Linked DNA regions of Homo sapiens: region 1 is linked to region 2. Evidence: fine-mapped expression QTL. A gene starts in region 2. The other region holds a variant in brackets. All regions are shown on one strand. Distances are from middle to middle. Region 1 overlaps ACTN4 (actinin alpha 4). Region 2 holds the start of EIF3K (eukaryotic translation initiation factor 3 subunit K).

Region 1 (2,500 bases), 59 kb before region 2:
GCAAAGCAAAGCTGGGCCCCTTTCAAAGGCATATCAGAGCACACCCCACTACCATCAGATAAACAAGCCACCTCTTTCTTGCTTTTCTCCTCTCCTGTGGAACAAGGTTGCATTTAAAAGGAGAAACAGTCCCGGGTTTTGTCTCCGAACAGAGCGAGGTCCCAGGGGCAAGGACTTGGGGTAACACACAGTGGCTGATTCCACGGGATTGGTCACCACTGACAGCGAAGAAGGTGTGGAGGGACACAGGAGACAAAGCCCAAGCCCAAGCCAGACAGCAGAGAGAAAAAGGGTGGCTGTGTCGCCCTGGGTCCCATGGCCCGGAGAGAGCCAGGGAGCTATCAGATTCTGCTCAACCACACTGCGTATCCTCTATCTTTCTCTAGATTTTCCATGGTACTGACTTCTCTGCCGATGCCCCATAAATAACAATGGCCACCAAAGACAGCCTAGACTTCCCTTCCTTCCCTGGTATTGCAGGTCTCGAGGCTCAGCCCAATAAATGGAGACGAGTGGGCTGTCCCAGAACACAGCACCATAGTAAACCCAGCTGCAGGAAGGTGGCCAGCCAGTCAAACCACAGGGCTGTGTTCTTAGGTCTTTAGCTATCCCTAGAAACACTTTACTGTCGCTTTCACGATGTAAGTTAATTTTACCTGCAGGTAGCAATTTCTGTATAAAAAGGAAGTCTCAAAAAGGAAAAAACAAAAAGGTCTACAGCGTTTTAGCCACACGTATCATTTTTAAGGGCAAGGGCCTTCTCTTTGTCTTACTCACCTCTGTGTCCCTGCTGCCCGGACACAGGTCAATCCTAGCTCAGTAAACATGAGCACAAAATAGGATGAATTATCCTGTGCTAACGATGATTTTCCCACCTCTCCATGGGACAGTGATGTCTCCCTCTTCTGCCTACTTGCAAAGCATCCTGTTTGGCCAGGCGCGGTGGCTCACACCTGTAATCCCAGCACTTTGGGAGGCTGAGACAGGCAGATGACTTGAGGCCAGGAGTTTGAGACCAGCCTGGCCAACATGGTGAAACATTGTCTCTACCAAAAATACAAAAATTAGCCGGGTATGGTGGTGTGCACCTGTAATCCCAGCTACTTGGGAGGCTGAGGCAGGAGAATCACTTCAACCCGGGAGGTAGGGGTTGCACCCACTGCACTCCAGCCTGGGCAACACAGCGAGACTCCGT[C/T]TCAAAAAAGAAAAAGAAAAAAAAGAAAAGCATCGCATCCTGTTTGTGTTTCATATCTAGCAGGGACTGATGCAGAACTCAGGACAGCTGGCTGAACACTGGGCCTAGAAGTGTCCCAGGTGAGGACTTCTTATGACCTTCCAGAGCACACTTTTAGATGGGATGCAATGAGCCTGGCAGGGGTGAGTGGGGCCTGGGCGGTCATGATACCCTTGTCCTCAGAGGATGGACCATGGGTGATCCCTCTACTCCTAAAGCCAAGCAGAAAGACAGAATGGATCTGCCACTCATCCATCCAGCCACTTGTTTGAGTGTCTCGACAAGTGATGTCTCCATCTTCTGCCCACTTGAAAAGCATCCTGTTTGTGTTGTGGCAGATCCATTCTGTCTGTTTGGCTATCTATTCATTCAATACATATTTATTTAGTGCACACTTACATTTGCCTTGACAATGTCCCACATGGTAGGGACACAGTGGTGAACAAAATAGATTCTCTCTCTGCTCTCGTGACCCTCGAGAGGGAGAGCCAAGGATGGTTGGAGTTAAAAGGAGAAGTAGAGGTGATGGACATGCTCCTAACCTAGGCTGGAGGTGTCAGGTGCGACGGCCCTACAAATAGTGAAGCATAAACTGCCATCTGAAGAATGAGGAGGAGGTAGGTGGCGAGCTGAGGCGAAAGGGGCAGAGGCAAGGGCCCCGTGTGAAGTCCCTCAGGAGGCAGGAATGAGCATGGAGCAGAGAGGCAGCTGGCATGCGCCCGGAGCACAGAGAGGAGAAAACAGATCCTGCAGGGCCTTGGGGACTTGCAGGTTTGATCCTGAGGGCAAGGGACACTGATCAAGATGTCAAGCAGGATGTTCTTTGGCCCCTATGTGAAGAATAGATGGGAGTGAGTGGGGGGATGCAGGGAAACCCGCCAGGAGCTGTTGCTCGAACTTGGCATCAGCACCTGGGCCACTCTAGTTCTCCACTGGTGCTCCAGGAGCTAGAGCACCTGGTCATGCTCTTACAAAGGGACAATGAGGCTGCTTCAGGAGAAGCTGTGGGACCTCAGGGCTTCCTGAGATGAAAAGCTCCTACTCAGGCCTTTCCGGGCCTGTCTGTGGTAGAGAGCAGAAAGGCAGCCTGTTTACCTTCCACATCCGGCCCCAGAGGCCCTGCCCGGGTGGGAGGTTTCCCAGAGGGAAGGACACATGTGGTGTTCTGCAGGATGCAAAAGACCTCTGTAAGCCTCCTCCCGTGCACTCTGAGGCCCCCTGGCCTCCCTCAGCCACGTCTCCAGCCCAGTCGCAGGACACTGCTAT
Region 2 (3,012 bases):
TCCCAACTTCCTTGGCTTCCTAGTCTTGCACACCAAGAGATGCTGCATTGTTCAGGATACTACCAGCCACCCCCTTGCCCTGTACTGGGAGTGGCACCCTGCTAGTTGCTGCAATGGGAGTGTAGACAGAGAGCTAGACACTTACAGCTTCAGGACAGCCAGGTTGGCTTCCAGATCATAGGCATTTTCCTTGGCCTGCGTCTCTACATAGCGCTCCAGGGTGGCCAGGTTCTCAGGATTGTACCTAAAGGAGAATCAAGATAGGTGAGCACAGAGGAGACAGAAGCTGAGGCCAGCCACCTTATGGAGCAAGGGGCCACTGTAACCTGCTCCTCCCGCCCTTCCCCTCTAAATCTGGCACTGGCCACTTGCTCTATCCAGGTAGTGAATTATGTCCAGTATAATCTCTAGTAAAACTTATTCTTATCCCAGACCTCTCGCCTAAGCTCTAAACTCCACTGGAGCCCTGGCTCTTCCCTAGGATGCCTCCTCAACCTCTGAGCCAGTCAGTCACTGCAGCTTGTACACCTGGCCTCCTGAATGTCTCTGCTACTCACCCCTTCCTCCCCTGTTCAGGCCTCCACCCTGATCCAGCCCCATCCTCTCCTGCCTACCTCGCTGCCTACTTCCTCCATGTCCACCTGAACACTCTGGCCTTTGCTTCCCCCATTTCAGTTCTAATCTCTCCCGGCTATCGCTGTCTGCTGTCAGGTTTGTCTCCCTTATGGAAAGGGAACTCAGACCGTGAAGGCATGATCTGCCGCTGTCTGATTCGCCTGTGGTTCCCAGCATTGCCTAGCACTGACAGTTTATTTCAGTAAACGTGTGGAGAATGAATGACTTATAGAGCAGAGAAGGGAGAGATTAAGAGGCACTCAAAGGAGGCGGAGCAGAGAAGGAAACCTTAAGGCAATTTACGAAGAGACTGAGTGGTACCAAGATTCTCTCGCTTCTAGGCCTTTGCAGTGCTTTTGTTTCTTTCTTTTAGAGACGGGGTTTGGCTGTTGCCCAGGCTGGTCTCTAACTCCTGGGCTCAGGCGACCCACCTACCTCGGCCTCCCAAAGTGCTAGGATCACAGGCGTGAGCCACTACCCCCAGCTCAGTGCCGTTTCTTTAAGCATCTCCTCCTCCAGGAGGATAGAGAAACCCCACCCCGCGGCAAGCCCAGGACCCTGAACACCCCTTGCTGTCTCCGGAAAACCCTCTCCTCCGCCCCGCTTGGCCAGAGCGCTTCCTCCAACCGGGCTCAGACCTGTCGATACCCTTGAGCAACTTGCCCACGTTGGCTCTCATCTGCTCAAACATCGCCATGACTTCTGTCGCCTTCCACAACCAGGGCTGGAGGCTAACACTGACCCGGCACGGCGTCCTCAAGGACGGGAACAGGAAGAGGTGGTGGAAACGGAAACGACGTCGTTGTTGTCGCTCCAGCTCCTTGGGTGCGGTAAAGGGAAAGGCTCTAGCAGCAGCCGCCACGCTTTCCGGCTGCCACGTGACTTCTTCCTCGCAGGCGCAATTGGCGCGTGCGCATTCGCGCCACTCAAGCTGGACAGACAGCGTGAGAAAAATCTTACTGGATCCCAGTGCGCAGGCGCCTCTCGTGGCGAGGGGGCGGGGCTAAGCTTTTCCCGGGCCTCACAGACCCAGTTCCAGTGCCGGTAGCGCGGGAGCGTGCGCGCGCGAACTCACCGGGAAGCACCCGGAGCTCTGGCGGCGTGCGCGCGCGTTGTATTGCGCGCGGCCATGAGGCCACGGAGCTCTGCGGGAATGCACGCAGCAGCCTTACGTTTAGGCCATGGCCAAGTTCCGAGGGAGGTGTTCTGAGGTCCCTCTTGCCACAGGCCTGGGCGCCTGGTGCAGGATCCTGAGCTCTCCAGTTTCAAGTCTCAGCCCTTGGTCCCCAGCTCCAGGAGGAGGGTCCCACAAAGCTACTGTGCTCTGCCGGGCAGGGGCTGGGGTGAGGGCTCCTGGACTTCGCCGGATCGCGCCCCGTCTCCATTAGGTTCCGGTCTTGGAGCTGAGGGCGAGCGTCCCATTTGTACTGCCATGAATTATATATTATGTATAGGTTTTGTACACTGCAGGCCTACAAAATGCAGTTATGTGCCATGCATGTGGAGGTATATGTCCTGGGTACATCCACGTGTGTACTGTGCACACAGGTATCCAGGCAGATGCACGTCTACACGCCTGCGCAGTGCAGAGGAGGTAACCCAAGTGCATGTATGTGACAGGTGAACAGGCATGTACACTGCATAGCCATCCCTTTGCAGACCTGCCGCCTTCGGGTTGTGGCCAAACCTTCAAGCACCCAGCAGAGGTTTAGACACTACCTAGGAGACGGGGGCGGGGGTTCTAAGGCACCCCCCTCCAACCCAGTTACGATTAAGATCATTTGCATCACATTTACATCCAGCCCTGGGCCTTGGAGGTTGAGGGTGGTCCCTTGGGTCCCAAGACAAGCTGCCCCTCAGAGGCTCTCAGAGCCCAGGGGACGGGGGGGTGGAGCCCGTTGCACAGTCGTGCAGTGCAGCTGGGGCAGGAAGCGAGAGTGAGGAGGGGGGAGGCCACAGCCCGCGGAGGCAAGGCGGGTGCAGGGCTTCTGGGGACGGAGGGAGGTGCCAGAAGTTGAGCCCTGAGGCCCTGCTGGCCCCTGGGCGCAGGCCCAGCTCAGGCCCCCAGGGATGGACGTCGTGGACCCTGACATTTTCAATAGAGACCCCCGGGACCACTATGACCTGCTACAGCGGCTGGGTGGCGGCACGTATGGGGAAGTCTTTAAGGTGAGGAAGCCCCTCTGTCCCCAACACCCTACAACCAGTGACCTTTAAGGCAAGCCCTCGGCAGGGAGGAGGCTGCAAGAGGGGGTCCCAGTTCTTGACCTTGACTCAGGGATGCTGTGGAGGGACTCTGGCAAATGGAGCCTGCCTGACTGCCAACTTCCCCTTTGCAAGGCTCGAGACAAGGTGTCAGGGGACCTGGTGGCACTGAAGATGGTGAAGATGGAGCCT

What was found. PIP is the estimated chance that this variant, and not a neighbour inherited with it, causes the effect.
Region 1: its variant is the best candidate, but not a certain one, in a credible set for the expression of EIF3K in whole blood (INTERVAL, PIP 0.50).

The regions. Positions count from the first base shown.
Region 1 is chr19:38,676,458-38,678,957 of GRCh38, reverse strand. The region is part of intron 1 of ACTN4 (actinin alpha 4); the gene reads right to left. Among named protein-coding and RNA genes, the nearest start is that of ACTN4, 30 kb to the right of the region's middle. RefSeq lists enhancers at 510-569, 174-759, 1,176-1,335. The variant C/T (reference allele first, on the strand shown) is at 1,196.
Region 2 is chr19:38,617,569-38,620,580 of GRCh38, reverse strand. It overlaps EIF3K (eukaryotic translation initiation factor 3 subunit K), which reads right to left and starts at 1,393. Exons shown (of 8, transcript NM_013234.4): 1 at 1,254-1,393; 2 at 146-244. The coding sequence starts at 1,312. MAP4K1 (mitogen-activated protein kinase kinase kinase kinase 1) reads left to right here and starts at 2,628. Exons shown (of 31, transcript NM_001042600.3): 1 at 2,628-2,784; 2 at 2,956-3,012. The coding sequence starts at 2,686. RefSeq lists an enhancer at 2,055-2,104.